Linked DNA regions of Homo sapiens: region 1 is linked to region 2. Evidence: fine-mapped expression QTL. A gene starts in region 2. The other region holds a variant in brackets. All regions are shown on one strand. Distances are between the middles of the regions.

Region 1 (8,208 bases), 370 kb before region 2:
GTGCTTTCTTGGCTCACTGCAGCCTCGAACGCCTGAGCTAAAGTCATCCTCCCACCTCAGCCTCCTGAGTAGCTGGGACTGCAGGTGCGTGCCACCATGCCCAACTAATTTTTTCTTTTTTTTTTTACTTTTATTTATTTATTTATTTTGAGACAGAATCTCACTCTGTTGCCCAGACTGGAGGGCAGTGGCGCAATCTCGGCTCACTGCATCCTCCACCTACCAGGTTCAAGCAATTCTCAGGCCTCAGCCTCCCACGTAGCTGGGATTACAGGCGTGTGCCACCACGCCCAGCTAATTTTTGTATTTTTTAGTGGAGACGGGGTTTCACCATGTTGGCCAGGCTGGTCTCAAACTCCTAGCCTCAAGTGATCCACCTGCGTTGGCCTCCCAAAGTGCTGGGATTACAGGTGTGAGCCACTGCACCTGGCCTAATTTTTTATTTTTATTTTTTGTAGAGAAGAGGTCTTGCCGTGTCGCCCAGGCTGATCTCAAACTTCTGGCCTCAAGTGATCTGCCTGCCTCGGCCTCCCAAAATGCTGGGATTACAGGCGTGAGCCACCGTGCCTCACCTCACTGCCTCTTTTCCTAGCATTCCCCAGCTATTTCATTTCTTTTTTGAAAAACATGACACTTTGTCTCTGGCCACCCAATATCTTCCCAGCTCCATAGAGCACAAACGCCCTCCTGCTCACGGAGGGCTGCACCCTCCCCTCCACACACGTGGCACCCCACTGGGCACACACGAGGAGCCACACTTTGAGACTGGTCCTGGCTGTGGACAGGGTCTCTGAGGGCCCCAGCCAGCCTCTGCCCAGGTGGTGGGAGGAAGCGGGAGCAGCATGGCCCTCTGAGTCCTCACGCTCTGCCCACCCTACACACTCCTCAGCCTCTTCCCCACCATGCCCCGGCACAACTTACACAAGATCGCCCCGCTGGTGAAGTCTCTATGTGCCAAGCATGGCATTGAATACCAGGAGAAGCCGCTACTGAGGGCCCTGCTGGACATCATCAGGTGAGGGGTGGAGGTCCACAGGCGCTGGGCCCTGGGATCACCCGTGGTGCAGACAGTGGGATCACAAGAGGGGCTGGGCCCTCCTGGCACAGTCACCCACCAGGGCACCTGCCTTACTCCCGAGCCTGTGTTAGGAGCTGTTGGGCTTTTCTCCCTGGGCTGCGAGAAGACCATCCCTTTCTGTGTGGGGTTCCTGGTGGGCTCTGAGCTGACAGCCCCACAGGCCCAGTGGCAGTGGTAAGCCCTGGTTAGGGCCAAGGGGACATACATGCCACCTTAATGATGGCCTCCTCAGCCCTTGCACTCCCTGGGGCCACTCCCGTCCTGGTCCCTGACCCTGGTCCATCCCCAACTTTGCAGGTCCCTGAAGAAGTCTGGGAAGCTGTGGCTGGACGCCTACCTTCACAAATGAAGCCACAGCCCCCGGGACACCGTGGGGAAGGGGTGCAGGTGGGGTGATGGCCAGAGGAATGATGGGCTTTTGTTCTGAGGGGTGTCCGAGAGGCTGGTGTATGCACTGCTCACGGACCCCATGTTGGATCTTTCTCCCTTTCTCCTCTCCTTTTTCTCTTCACATCTCCCCCATAGCACCCTGCCCTCATGGGACCTGCCCTCCCTCAGCCGTCAGCCATCAGCCATGGCCCTCCCAGTGCCTCCTAGCCCCTTCTTCCAAGGAGCAGAGAGGTGGCCACCGGGGGTGGCTCTGTCCTACCTCCACTCTCTGCCCCTAAAGATGGGAGGAGACCAGCGGTCCATGGGTCTGGCCTGTGAGTCTCCCCTTGCAGCCTGGTCACTAGGCATCACCCCCGCTTTGGTTCTTCAGATGCTCTTGGGGTTCATAGGGGCAGGTCCTAGTCGGGCAGGGCCCCTGACCCTCCCGGCCTGGCTTCACTCTCCCTGACGGCTGCCATTGGTCCACCCTTTCATAGAGAGGCCTGCTTTGTTACAAAGCTCGGGTCTCCCTCCTGCAGCTCGGTTAAGTACCCGAGGCCTCTCTTAAGATGTCCAGGGCCCCAGGCCCGCGGGCACAGCCAGCCCAAACCTTGGGCCCTGGAAGAGTCCTCCACCCCATCACTAGAGTGCTCTGACCCTGGGCTTTCACGGGCCCCATTCCACCGCCTCCCCAACTTGAGCCTGTGACCTTGGGACCAAAGGGGGAGTCCCTCGTCTCTTGTGACTCAGCAGAGGCAGTGGCCACGTTCAGGGAGGGGCCGGCTGGCCTGGAGGCTCAGCCCACCCTCCAGCTTTTCCTCAGGGTGTCCTGAGGTCCAAGATTCTGGAGCAATCTGACCCTTCTCCAAAGGCTCTGTTATCAGCTGGGCAGTGCCAGCCAATCCCTGGCCATTTGGCCCCAGGGGACGTGGGCCCTGCAGGCTGCAGGAGGGCACTGGAGCTGGGAGGTCTCGTCCCAGCCCTCCCCATCTCGGGGCTGCTGTGTGGACGGCGCTGCCTCAGGCACTCTCCTGTCTGAACCTGCCCTTACTGTGTTTAACCTGTTGCTCCAGGATGCATTCTGATAGGAGGGGGCGGCAGGGCTGGGCCTTGTGACAATCTGCCTTTCACCACATGGCCTTGCCTCGGTGGCCCTGACTGTCAGGGAGGGCCAGGGAGGCAGAGCGGGAGGGAGTCTCAGGAGGAGGCTGCCCTGAGGGGCTGGGGAGGGGGTACCTCATGAGGACCAGGGTGGAGCTGAGAAGAGGAGGAGGTGGGGGCTGGAGGTGCTGGTAGCTGAGGGGACGGGCAAGTGAGAGGGGAGGGAGGGAAGTCCTGGGAGGATCCTGAGCTGCTGTTGCAGTCTAACCCACTAATCAGTTCTTAGATTCAGGGGAAGGGCAGGCACCAACAACTCAGAATGGGGGCTTTCGGGGAGGGCGCCTAGTCCCCCCAGCTCTAAGCAGCCAGGAGGGACCTGCATCTAAGCATCTGGGTTGCCATGGCAATGGCATGCCCCCCAGCTACTGTATGCCCCCGACCCCCGCAGAGGCAGAATGAACCCATAGGGAGCTGATCGTAATGTTTATCATGTTACTTCCCCACCCCTACATTTTTTGAAATAAAATAAGGAATTTTATTCTCACTTCCTGTGTTTCCTGCACGCCAATGCCAGGCCATGGTATTGGGTGATAGATGAGGCCCTTCTAGCTGGGCCTGGGCACCAGGAGGGGTCCCCATGCTTGCATCTCTCTGTATCCCCTCCCTCCCCTGTGGCCATCCCACCCGCCTCTCCCTGCTGCCTCTGAAATTCATTCTGGGGCCCGGAACTTGGTGGAAATGACCCAAAAACATTGGCCCATCTTCCTCCTCTCAGCAGCCGACCCCAGCCCAATTCTAAAACAGGGCTGAGAGCCACCTCTCAGCAGCTGACCCCTACCCAAGGAGGGTGGCATGGAGGGGCTTGCAGAGACTCTTCCTAACATCCTCCCCCCCCAGCTGTCTCCCCAAGTGCAATCTGCCCTCCCATCCCTGGGCCAGCCAGCTTCCACAGAGCGCCAGGCCAAACAGAATTCCTGGCCTCCTTGGAAGGGGCTGGAGAAGGCCGGGAGCGGTGGCTCATGCCTGTAATCCCAGCACTTTGGGAGGCTGAGGCGGGCAGATCACAAAGTCAAGAGATTGAGACCATCCTGGCCAACATGGTGAAACCCCGTCTCTACTAAAAATACAAAAATTAGGCCGGGTGCGGTGGCTCACGCCTGTAATCCCAGCACTTTGGGAGGCCGAGGCGGGCAGATCACGAGGTCAGGAGATCAAGACCATCCTGGCTAACACGGTGAAACCCCGTCTCTACTAAAAATACAAAAATTAGGCCGGGTGCGGTGGCTCACGCCTGTAATCCCAGCACTTTGGGAGGCCGAGGCGGGCAGATCACGAGGTCAGGAGATCAAGACCATCCTGGCTAACACGGTGAAACCCCGTCTCTACTAAAAATACAAAAAATTAGCCGGGCGAGGTGGCGGGTGCCTGTAGTCCCAGCTACGTGGGAGGCTGAGGCAAGAGAATGGCGTGAACCCCGGCGGGGCAGAGCCTGCAGAGAGCTGAGATCACACCACTGTACTCCAGCCTGGGCAACAGCGAGACTCCGTCTCAAAAAAAAAAAAAAAAAAAAAATTAGCTGGGCATGGTGGTGCGTGCCTGCAGTCCCAGCTACTCAGGAGGCTGAGACGGGAGAATCGCTTGAACCTGGGAGGCAGAGGTTGCAGTGAGCCAAGATCGCTCACTCCAGCCTAGCGACAGAGTGAGACTCCGTCTCAAATAAATAAATAAATAAATAAATTAAATTAAATTAAAAGGGGGCTGAAGAAGGCTCTGGAGGCTGATGATTCTTTTTGTGGCTCCCGTGCCCATATATGCAATGGCTCATTCAGAACCCACAGGCTGTGGGGGGGGCTGATATCATCCTAGCCCAGGGTCACCAGTTCATAGGCACAGAGATTGGATCCTAGGTCTGTCTGACCCCAGAGGCTGGGAAGAGTCTAAAGCAACATGCCAGGGGCACTTGTACAGTCGGCCTCCCATGGACCCCCATGCTGCTCCGTCATCATCTCTGGGCTGGCTTTCCTGGCAGGGCTGATCCTGGGAAAGTGCCAAGGAAGGGCCAAGAGGCACTGGCTAGTTAACACCTTGGGGCCTCCCCTTGGCTTTGTAGCTGCTCCCAGCAGGGCTGGGGAGGGCTCCTGAGTAGACCTCAGCCCCCGCCTGCTTCCCCTGACCCCCGCTTTGCCTGGCCGAAATCCAGCCAGGTAGGGACAGCCAGCAGACTGGCTGGGGTACGTATGGCTCCCCAGTGGCCACAGGGTGTCCTGAGTAGGGCCTGGCATTACAGAAGCCCTGAGCGAGGTGGCCGACTCACCCCAGATTCACCAAGTGGCTCTGGGGAGTCCTTTGCCCTCCCTGGCCCTGTGGGCCATAGTCCACAG[G/A]GGCAGGCTAGAGGGGCCCCAAGGATGCCATTATCTCAACACCCGCTTACCCTAGGCCTTGCCCTCCTGGTGGACCCGCTGGCAGTGGCCTTCAAGGTTACAAGACCCTGGCAGGCACGGCTCCCACCCTCTGCCCTGTGCCTGTGACCCGCCTCCAGGATGGCGACCAGCCCAGGCCTCCCAACCCTACCAGTTGGAAATCCATGGGTCCATCACCCATAACAACCAGGGGGCTTGGAATTGGGGATACTGGAGGCCAGATGGACGCTGGGGCTATGAGGGCACCAGATAAATCTTGGCCTAGCCTCACCGGGCACTTGGAGCTTCTCTGACTTCCCCAGCCCCACCCAGCCCCGCCTTGCCCTTGAATACTTCCCTGGGTCAAGAAGCTGAGGACATTCATATCTGCTCTCTGCTTAACCGCCCCCTCCTGTCCCTGTACTCAGCTGACCCCCTTGCCAACACACCCAGAATTGTGAGTTTCTAATCCCTATCCCCTGCCAAAGTCATGGTGCCCCAATATTCAAGGCCCTGAGCAATCAAACCCCAACACCACCATCATGGGCGAAGAGGCTGAGCCCAGAGAGAGGACAGGACTGCGCAGGCCACACAGCAGCAGGACCCTGCTCCTAACCCGCAGGCTCCTGGCCACCTCTCCTGCACAGAAAGGGCTGGTTCCCAGACCCTGCCCCCATCACGTCAAATGTCAGACAGCTCCCAGGAGGCCCAGCGGCTGGCTGGAGGAGTGGGGGCAGTGGAGGGCAGTTAGTCTCTGAGGAGGAGATAAGGGCAGTGTAGCTACGCAGATAAAAGGGTATCAGCTTTGTGGGTAGCGGGGACATCTGCAGCGCCCCAAGTCTAAGCTGTGTGTGTGTGGGGCGGGGGAGGGTGCTGTGGCACCACAGGCGGATCCTCGGGGTGTCTGGCTGGACACTCCGAAGCCCTCGTGCCTACTCGGAGGGGAGAGGAAGCCTTTACCAAGCTGGACCAGGGCAGAGCTGGCAGCCACTGGGGCTGGGCTTGGGCTGCCATCAGGAGTGGCTGGCCATTGCTTATGTGACACAGTGCCTTGGGCCCATCGGGACTCCTCAGCGAGCCAGGCTGCACCCTCCCCCGAGAGGTGTGCCCCTCTGGCCAAAGAAGCTGCCTCTCAAAGAGTCCCTGTTCCAACATCTGAGAGGGAAATGGGGCGCCGTGGGGATGGCTTGCCCCAGGCTGAAACGCCACTGCCCTCGGGACTGGTTTTCCTTTTCTCAGCAGACTGGCTTCATGTGGCCAGTGCATACACGGAACAAGCAGCCCCCCAGCGTGCTGAGATTTCAGGATCACGTCCCCATCGTCCTCCACCATCACAAACACTTTGCTTTGGATTTTAAAGGCGTTCAGGTCTTTCTTCTAAATCGTCCCATTCAAGAGCAAGTGTCCAAGAGAAAGAGTGACAGCAGCCAAGAGCTTGGAATAGGCCAAGCTCCCAGTAGTTGTGGTGGCTCATTGCCTGAGGACATAGTGTGGTGGGGGGAGGAACCTTGAGAAACCCATGGCCTGTCCCGTCACAAAAGAGTTTGTTGACGCCCTGCTCCCCTCCAGCTACTCCCAACACACCAGGCAGGGGCTGGCTCTTGGGCATCATCATTTCCAACATCTGCCTGGGCTGGGAGACCCGTAGCAAATGTTGATGATCAAAGGAACAAACCAACACTGCGGTTATGGTTTCCCTCGGGAGCTGTTTTTCCTCCGGGCCCACGCCTCTTGTACAGACAATAAAAAAGGAACACGGTTTCTCAGAGGTTCAGAGGTTCCACCAAAGCCTCTTTCCTTTTACAAACCTGGCCCCTGTGCCCTAAGCCTTTGTTCTGAGACTAGGAGACCTACAGATGGAGAAGGGGGAGCTCAGCTCAGGACTGAGGGTGACCTGTTCCCAGGGGATCTAGCATGGGGGACAGTGGGACAAGAGCAAAGATTCCCCTGCCAGTGATGGGTCCCAGGTGGTCTGGAGAAATCTAGGAGTGGCTGCTGAAGGCGGGGCCTCCCAGGGGTCCGCAAAGCAAGTTACCAGGGACAGTAGGGAGCACGGCCCGCCCCACACTGGCGCAGATGCTCCGGGCGCCCCTGGGTGGCGCTGCAGGCTCAGCTGTCGTGGATCCTCGGTGTTAGCATCTCCCTGGCGAGCGCCTCGGAGCCAGCGCACAGCGATCTCTACCAGGGTGTGGACGGAGGGAATGCCATTCGGAGCCTGCGCTGGCTCAGGGCGCCCGCGTGGCACTAGGAGCCAACAGGATTTAAACAGGCGGTGACAGGAAGGGGGAGTCCCTGCAGAGGGACCAGCCTGTGCAGAGACCCTGAATGCAAGGCACGCCCTGGCCATGAGAAGCGTGTGTCTGAGGCAGGAAGTACCTTTCAAGGAGCATCCAATCTTACCCTCGGCTGAAAACTGAGGCTCAGGGAAGGCAAAAAAGAACTTGCCCTAGGTGACAGAGCAAATGGTCATCCTGGGGAATTGGGTTGTGTGCACAAAATTTGTGAATAAACTGAGCCTGCTGCTGTGCCCTTTGCTAAGAGCCTTTCTTCCATCACCCTAGGTACTGCTGCTCGGGGTCAAGGAACTCCCCCAAGGTCACACAGCCTGCGTCCTGGCAGAAACAGGACTTGCCCCCACCCCACCCCACCCCCAAGTCTGTCTGACTTGAGTGGATCCGGTGGGGCTGGGTGGCACCCGGAGGAGGGCAGGCATCTCACTCACAACCAAGCTGAAGGGGCTGCCACCCTCTGCTTCCCTGGCCCTACCAGGAGGCCTCTGCTGGCACTGCCCTGGGCCGGGAGGCCATAGGGAGCTTTGGGCTGTCTGCTCCTGGGTCTGGGAGATTATGTGAGCCGAACAGGACCTCCCCCAGTGCTCTCCTGCCCCAGAAGTCAGGGTGAGGGAAGCAGGACCCAAACACCCTGTCTGTCATCCTCTCAGAAAACACACCCCAGGGTCTCCCGGGCCAGGCTCTGGGCTGCCACCAGCCTCCAGCAGCAAATGATGTCAGTATTCCAGGTGCCGTCACAGAGACCCTAGTCACAGGCTGGGCAGGGAAGGGGAGGAGCCCTGCGGGTCAGAGAGAACTTTCTAGAAGGGGAGCCCCTGGGAAGAGCCGCAAGAGTCCATGGGAATGTGCAGACGGCCCCTCCTCACAGAGAGGAAGCAGGTGTGAGACTACGGTGATCAGCTTTAGCACTGAGGAGCTTTCTGGCTGTCTCGGAAGAGAAGTTCATGGGCAGCAACACTCAGCGCCACCT
Region 2 (8,394 bases):
AATTAGAAGAGAAACTAAACAGGAGCTCCTATTAGTCAATATAGAGCTTGGTGAGTTGATATTAAATTTCCCTGAAATTGTTTTAGAAGTCTTGGCTTCCACTAGAAGATTAGGAGTTGGAGTGGTTGATGCGGCAAAATCCTCGTTTCACTGTTCTCTCTAGGGATGTGGAAAACCGATGAGTTTCTTTCACAGTCACCACCACACTACTCATCTTTCACCCTCAACTGCCCACAGGGAAGCCTGGCACCATGAGCATTCTTTTACACTGAACATGAATGTCACCCATTTAGCAGTTTGTTGATTCATAATTTTATGATGTATTTGTTAAAAGATTGTTTGCTGATCTTCTTCTCCATGCCAGCCGCTGTGCTGAGCCAAGATGAGCAAAAGCAGATACTGGCCCTGTGATTATGGAGCTAACAGTCCAGGAAAACTTGTATCCATGAACTGATTACACATTTGTAAAATAACAGCCTTGGAATTGCTGCAAATGAGAGGTGCATGGTTCCAGCAGTGTCTGTAAAGGGCAACACTGACCAAAGCATCGGGGTCAGGCAACAATGCCCGTGGGTGGAAAGAATGAACTGAAATATTGCATGAACTCGGTAAGGAGGAGGGACCCATTAAAAATATCAATGATGAAAACTAAAAAACCCTGTGCAGGTGTTAAGGGCAATAGGAATGATAAAAGTACAAGCAAACAGTCCTCTCTCAGAGATACACATCCTCCCCGGTGGACCATAGAGCTGACAAGGTGAATGCCAAGCCTGTGCCAGGACAAGCTCTGGTCCACAGTTAGGATGAATGCCTCACAGACCTGTCTGCTGTGAAAGACGTCTCAGTCCTGAAGCCCAAGTCCATGGGTCTGTAGACTCAGAGATCATGAACTGGATTTCTTTTTCCATTTATGTCAGAGAGAAATGGTGTATCTAGGTGTCCATGTAGTTCTGAAAGTAGGTGATTTAGTGGATTTTGGCTGTGCTCTAAACTAGGAACTACTGGCAAACCATGACATATATGACAAGTGGGACAAGATAATGGGAGTTAGAATTTATTGAGAACTACTATGTACCAGAACTTAGTTAACTTTAAACACACACACCCCCATGAACACACTCATTTGATCATCTATGAACCCAATGATGTAGGCACAATTACTAGCCTACTTTGACAAATAGGAAAACTGAGGTTACATAAGCTGAATAATTTTCTTAAGGTCCAAGAGCCCACAAATGAGGCTGTATCTGTGAGCCTTGTATCTGTGAGCCTCACCACTGGCCCTCCCACTCCTTGGTGGTGGCGGAAGAGCTGGCTCAGGGATTTCCTCATGATCCTGTGTGATGGAAGTGACAGCCACTGTTGCCCTCAGCTGGGGCTCAAACAAACCTGCCAAGTTGTCTCTGATGACACAGCCCATAAGGTCCCCTCTTTACATACATGTCTTTCTGTGTGGTTTTCAGCCCTCCTGCCCATCAGAAACACCAGAGCAGTTTAAACAGTGTAGGAATCAGGGAGTCAACCCAACGCTACTGAATCAAAATCCCCAGAGAGAGAAACCTGGGGAGTCAGTATATTTTAAAAGCTCCAAGTGATTCGATTGCGCAGCTGCGAATGGAAAGCTCGGGCCTAGGCTGTGAATCCTCTCAAAAGTAAGTTCATTTAAGAGAGAAATTTCTTGATGTGTTGCTGGATTCGGTTTGCCAGTATTTTATTGGGGATTTTTGCATCGATGTTCATCAGGGATATTGGTCTATAATTCTCTTTTTTTGTTGTGTCTCTGCCAGTCTTTGGTATCAGGATGGTGCTGGCCTCATAAATTGAGTTAGGGAGGATTCCCTCTTTTTCTATTGATTAGAATAGTTTCAGAAGGAATGGTACCAGCTCCTCCTTGGACCTCTGGTAGAATTCGGCTGTGAATCCATCTGGTCCTGGACTTTTTTTGGTTGGTAGGCTATTAATTATTGCCTCAATTTCAGAGCCTGTTATTGGTCTATTCAGAGATTCAACTTCTTCCTGGTTTAGTCTTGGGAGGGTGTATGTGTCGAGGAATTTATCCATTTCTTCTAGATTTTCTAGTTTATTTGCATAGAGGTGTTTATAGTATTCTCTGACGGTAGTTTGTATTTCTATGGGATCGGTGGTGATATCCCCTTTATCATTTTTTATTGTATCTATTTGATTCTTCTCTCTTTTTTTCTTTATTAGTCTTGCTAGTGGTCTATCAATTTTGTTGCTCTTTTCAAAAAACCAGCTCCTGGATTCGTTGATTTTTTGAAGGGTTTTTTGTGTCTCTATCTCCTTCAGTTCTGCTCTGATCTTAGTTATTCAATGCCTTCTGCTAGCTTTTGAATATGTTTGCTCTTGCTTCTCTAGTTCTTTTAATTGTGATGTTAGGGTGTCAATTTTAGATTTTTCCTGCTTTCTCTTGTGGGCATTAAACTTATCCACCATGATCAATTGGGCTTCATCCCTGGGATGCAAGGTTGGTTCAACATACGTAAATCAATAAATGTAATCCAGCATATAAACAGAACCAATGAAAAAATCACATGATTATGTAAACTAGTTCAACCATTGTGGAAGTCAGTGTGGCGATTCCTCAGGGACCTTGAACTAGAAATACCATTTGACCCAGCGATCCCATTACTGGGTATATACCCAAAGGATTATAAATCATGCTGCTATAAAGACGCATGCACACGTATGTTTATTGCAGCACTATTCACAATAGCAAAGTCTTGGAACCAACCCAAATGTCCAACAATGATAGACTGGATTAAAAAAATGTGGCACATATACACCACGGAATACTATGCAGCCATAAAAAATGATGAGTTCATGTCCTTTGTAGGGACATGGATGAAGCTGGAAACCATCATTCTCAGCAAACTATCGCAAGGACAAAAAAACAAACACCGCGTGTTCTCACTCATAGGTGGGAATTGAACAATGAGAACACATGGACACAGGAAGGGGAACAGCACACACCAGGGACTGTTGTGGGGTGGGGGGAGGGGGGAGGGATAGCATTAGGAGATATACCTAATGTTAAATGATGAGTTAATTGGTGCAGCACACCAACATGGCACATGTATACATATGTAGCTAACCTGCACGTTGTGCACACGTACCCTAAAACTTAAAGTATAATAACAAAAAAGAGAGAGAAATTTCTAGTGATTGATTTCCTGCTCACACCACACAAAGGCATCACAGCAGGAGGGCAGGAGGGTGTGTATTGCTTTGTCTGGGTGCTTCCTTCCCTTTCTATTAAAAATGGGATTGGCTCAGGCTGCACAGCTAGATTTGAAGTGGAAAACTTGAGCCTAGAGGTTGGGGGGAAGTGACCACTCACCCTGATCATCTGTCTCTTCTTTTCCATCTTCTTCCCCTCCTGGAGCCCCAGAGCAAAGAACTCTCAGTACCTGTCCGATGCATGATTGGCTCTGGACACTCCAAAAGCTACTTGGAAAAAGTTAGGCTATGTAATCATCAGGTCAACCCATCAACATGTGGGTGGCTACACATCACAGAAAGCTTGCTCCTCGTAGAGAGAAAATGTGAGTCTTGGCCATATTTATAGCTGCACTCATAAACAAGACTCAGGTTTGGGAGTGAGACAGGCTAGAGAACAGGTGCAGCAGTTGCTTTTCCCCAGGAAATCCTCCAAAGGTAAGATGCATTGAACTAGGTTTTAGGTACCTATGCAGTGAACATGGTGGTGATGGGAGGGGCTGAGGGGAATAGGTCTTGTTTAGACTTGCTCAATGTGCAACTGAAACAAGCCTACTGGTTGTCAGACATGCAGGGGGATCAAAGCAGGGTTTCCTTATGTCCCTGCTCCCCCATAACCAGAACACAGCCTTCCAGCTTCCTGTGCCTTCCAAAGTCAGAATTTACCTGTGCCCTTGAACTGATACAAAGAAAAAAAATAATCAGCAAAACTCAGAAGGAAACAGAATCCCAGGAATATTTCCAGAGGTGCCTGAACATTCACCTGGAACACAGAGCAGAGTTCCTGCAGGGCTACCCTCCTGTGCTCTGCCCCAGTCAGAGTGCAGGGAGGCGTGGGGAGGTGACACAGATGGATGGCAACAGCCCTGGGAAGGAGAGGTGGGCTGGGAGCCAGGCCTCATGACCAGTACCAGCTAGACTCCCTAGGTACAAATAGCCCTGGGCTCTGCAGCTCCACAGGCTCCTGGGGTGGAGTCCAAATCACTCATTGTTTGTGAAAGCTGAGCTCACAGCAAAACAAGCCACCATGAAGCTGTCGGTGTGTCTCCTGCTGGTCACGCTGGCCCTCTGCTGCTACCAGGGTGAGTACATCAGTCATGAGTCTAGCTCCAGCCCCTGGGAAGCACCCTCTTCCAAGCACGAGGTCACCTATTCAGGCTGGGGTTAGGATCTGCACAAAACCAAAATTCCAAACCTTTTTCTGTGCTTGTTGAACAAGCCCCTCATCAAGTTCAGAGCTATTTCTTCTACTCCCCAGCACCTACGAAGTTTTATTGAAAATCAGTGCAGGCAAATATTAGGAATTCTTCTGCCTGAGCTTCACTCCTGGGTGGGATCTGTGTCAGATGATGTAATGTGAGGTCTGGGGTGAATCTGGGATCCGCCACTTCCCAGCCCTTTGACCTTGGGCACAATGCTCACCCTCCCTGAGCCTCCTCCTATCACTGGTAGTTAGCGCTTCTGCCAGGAGAGGCTATGAGAATGGAGTAAGAAAGATTAATACTGTCAAAAGAGTCTAGCTGTGGGCTAAGCATGGCGGCTCATGCCTGTAATCCTAGCACTTTGGAAGGTCAAGGAGAGTGAATTGCTTGAGCTCAGGAGTTTGAGTCCGGCCTAGGCAACGTGGCGAAACTCCAGCTTTACCAAAAGAAATATGAAAAATCAGCTGGACGTGGTGACATGCACCAGTAGTCTCAGCTACTTAGGGGGCTGAGATGGGGATATCGCTTGAGCCCAGGAGGTAGAGGCTGCAGTGAGCCATGATTGAGCTACTGAATTCCAGCCTGGGTGACAAAGGGAAAAAAAAGAGTTTGGCTGTTGATATGAAGTGCTTTCCTTTATTGTGAGAGCTTGAGGAAGTCACACCTGAAGGGTCTGGCATTGTCATCAGCACAACAAATGTATGTGAACATATAACCCAGGGGATCCTGTCTGGTCTAACGTCAGGGAGCCAAAGAGAAAAATCGACTTTCCTAACATCAACTATATTTTTATTCTTTTGCTGCAGCCAATGCCGAGTTCTGCCCAGCTCTTGTTTCTGAGCTGTTAGACTTCTTCTTCATTAGTGAACCTCTGTTCAAGTTAAGTCTTGCCAAATTTGATGCCCCTCCGGAAGCTGTTGCAGCCAAGTTAGGAGTGAAGAGATGCACGGATCAGATGTCCCTTCAGAAACGAAGCCTCATTGCGGAAGTCCTGGTAACTTCTTTCTCCTTTATTTGTTAAGGCTTCTGGTCAGCTGCACAGTATGAAGTGAGGTCAGCTTGCTGCTCTGTTGGGGACACAGGTGGTGGGGCAGCTGCCTTGCTGGTCACCTCTTGAGAAGGTCACCTGGGGCCACAGGGTGGGTGCCACCATTTCACCTGCAGAATTCAACTCAGCTGCACACAGCCTCCTGCATGTTCCTCCTTCTCATGTCACCTGCCTGGATGCCATGTCCCCAGAGTGTGCTGAGGACATGGGGAGTGAGCCTGGGCCCAGGCAGAAATGGTAAAGGGCCAAGCATGGCCGCCTCGCTGCTGGGAGCTTTCCTGAGACCAAACTGCCCTCATGTAATGGACACAGTCACTGTGGAATGTCCTGGGGAGCATGGGAGCCTTGAACAGGGAGAGGAAGGCAGGGAGGGACATAGAGCAGGGGCTCCTGCAGATGTAGCACTGGCAGGCTGGACTTCTCTGCAGCTTCTGCAGAGCCAGGAAGGAGCCCCTCCCAGCTCCTGAGACCCCATACTCCCCTCCACACCCACGACACTCTCCTGACCATGGCCAGTCGTCCAAGACCCTAGCTAGTCTACCTCCTGCAGTGCCATGGAAGCGGGATGTTCTCACTCTGTCTTTCTCAAGAAATCAGAGGTTTTCCAGGGGCCTCTCTGCCTGGCTGCCTCTGAGTTGCTGTCCTGAGGTTTAGCTGCAAATGCTCATGGAAGCTGCAGGCTCGGGACTGAGAGGTGCTCGGGCCCTGAGGCAGAATTCCCACATGGGGAGGCTGGAGTCTCCTGGAAGCCAAGCTTCCCAGAAGCCCTCTCAGCCCTGACCAGCCTCTCAGTCCTGGGTCCCTCACTGCAGGAACCAGGAGACTCCAAGCCCTGGGACAGCCCAGGCAATAACCTCTTGCTGCTCTCTCCAACCCTCGTCACTTGCTTCCATGAGGATCCTGGGCCTCATTCCCGGATCACCCCAGGGCTATTGGCCTGGCAAGAAAAGGCTGCTCCATCACCGGCATGGGTGCTGTGAGGCCACCAGGTCTAGGCCTCAGTTTCCCAAACTGAGTTGTTGCCTCTGCCCTTCCAATTGCCTTTGGGGGCAGAATCCCACTGGCCTCTTGGATGTGAGCCTGTCACCTCCAGCAGCAGCATGACTGACCCCACCTTCTTTTTTCTTTTCCTATTTTAGGTGAAAATATTGAAGAAATGTAGTGTGTGACATGTAAAAACTTTCATCCTGGTTTCCACTGTCTTTCAATGACACCCTGATCTTCACTGCAGAATGTAAAGGTTTCAACGTCTTGCTTTAATAAATCACTTGCTCTCCACGTCTCCACTGGTCTTGTTATAATCCTGCAGTCTCGAGCCTTGAGTACAGGGTGGTTTCCATAGTGGAGTGGCCTTTTGCTGTGGGTGATAATTAACTCCAGAGAACCAGCATCCTGTTACTAATGGGGCCTGAGTCCAGGTGTCACAGAGGAGAATATTTGGTAGGAATTATCCTGCATTCCTTACAGATTTCCCATCTTGCAGCCGTGAATAAAAACCATGGTAACAAGGACACAGGAATTGAAATGTTCCACTGGTCTTACACTGAGAGAACCCCCAGCCTGAATGGGTATCCAGGCCGAGGGTTCCCACCTATCAGTGACTTTACTCTGATGTCCCCTCAGACCCACAGTCAGCCTGCTTGGTGCTCTCTCTGCACTATGCTTTCTGTCCTCCGTCATGTCCAGTATACTTCATTTTCCACTTATCACAATTTGGGGTCCTCTTTAGGTTTCAACCTGGAGTTCACATTGTTTTACTCCCCACGCTCAGAGCACTCCTCAGCGTCTGCATCACTCACCAGCACCTGAGGTGAATGCTTCCTTCCTCAAGCTCTCCCAAGAGCTCCAGAGACCAGCACCCCCTGACAACTGGACAGCTCCCAGTGCGCACTCCACAGTCATTTCAGGAGCAGGATGTAAAACTGAGCACAGGGTCTGCCCCCAGCCTGCTCTCCCTTCCATGAGCCCATCCAGGCTAAGGCACCCACCCAGCAAGCACCCTGACCAGGACACAGAGAGACACCACAGTTTCCCTGCTTGGTGTCCTGTGACTACTGGAACAAAAATCTGCAAACTTCATGGCTTAAAACGACTGATTCTCAGGCATCTCTGGGGGTCAGAAGTCCAACATTAGTATCACTGTGAAGACGTTAGGGGGCAGCAGGGCTCCGCTCCCTCTGGGGACTCTTGGGGGGAATTCACTAAGGGTTGCTTCTGGCTTCTGGGCTAATAATTGTCCTGGTCCTGTGGCCACATCACTCCAACCTCTGCCTCCATGATATGTTCCCTTCTTTTCTTTCTACATCAACCCCACCCACCTTGGCTTTTTTTTTTTTTTTTTTTTGAGAAGGAGTCTCGCTCTGTCGCCCAGGCTGGAGTGCAGTGGCACCATTTCGGCTCACTGCAAGCTCCACCTCCCGGGTTCACGCTGTTCTCCTGCCTCAGCCTCCCGAGTAGCTGGGACTACAGGCGCCCGCCACCATGCTCGGCTAATTTTTTGTATTTTTAGTAGAGATGGGGTTTCACCGTGTTAGCCAGGATGGTCTTGATCTCCTGACCTCGTGATCCACCCACCTCGGCCTCCCAAAGTGCTGGGATTACAGACGTGAGCCACCACCCTGACTTTTAATCACAAAATACACAGGTTTGGTTTTGGGACCCTGCAGATTATTCAGAATAACACCCCATCTCATTATGTTTGATCGTGTCTGCCAAGTGCTTTTTTTGTCATATAATGGAACATTCACAGATTTCAGGAACTAGGATGTGGGTATCTTTCAGGGTGGACATGAGGCAGCCAATGACAGCTCCCCTCCCTCCTGACTCCTAACAGTGCACTATGTTCTATTCCCTCCATTGCCCCAGAATCACCTTTACGAGTTCCTTCTTTCCCATCACACAGTCATA

Alleles and levels. Alleles are on the strand shown, and positions count from the first base shown. SD is a standard deviation of normalised expression in the study named.
With allele A in place of G in region 1, the expression in nucleus accumbens of the gene that starts at base 4,196 in region 2 is lower (moderate effect, 0.57 SD a copy in GTEx).

What was found. PIP is the estimated chance that this variant, and not a neighbour inherited with it, causes the effect.
Region 1: its variant is fine-mapped to the expression of SCGB1D2 in nucleus accumbens (GTEx, PIP 0.98).

The regions. Positions count from the first base shown.
Region 1 is chr11:61,864,263-61,872,470 of GRCh38, forward strand. FADS2 (fatty acid desaturase 2) reads left to right here. Exons shown (of 12, transcript NM_004265.4): 11 at 890-1,015; 12 at 1,376-3,092. The coding sequence ends at 1,427. Among named protein-coding and RNA genes, the nearest start is that of MIR6746, 9.9 kb to the right of the region's middle. The variant G/A (reference allele first, on the strand shown) is at 4,930.
Region 2 is chr11:62,238,044-62,246,437 of GRCh38, forward strand. It overlaps SCGB1D2 (secretoglobin family 1D member 2), which reads left to right and starts at 4,196. Exons shown (of 3, transcript NM_006551.4): 1 at 4,196-4,319; 2 at 5,246-5,433; 3 at 6,627-6,769. The coding sequence starts at 4,265. The coding sequence ends at 6,656.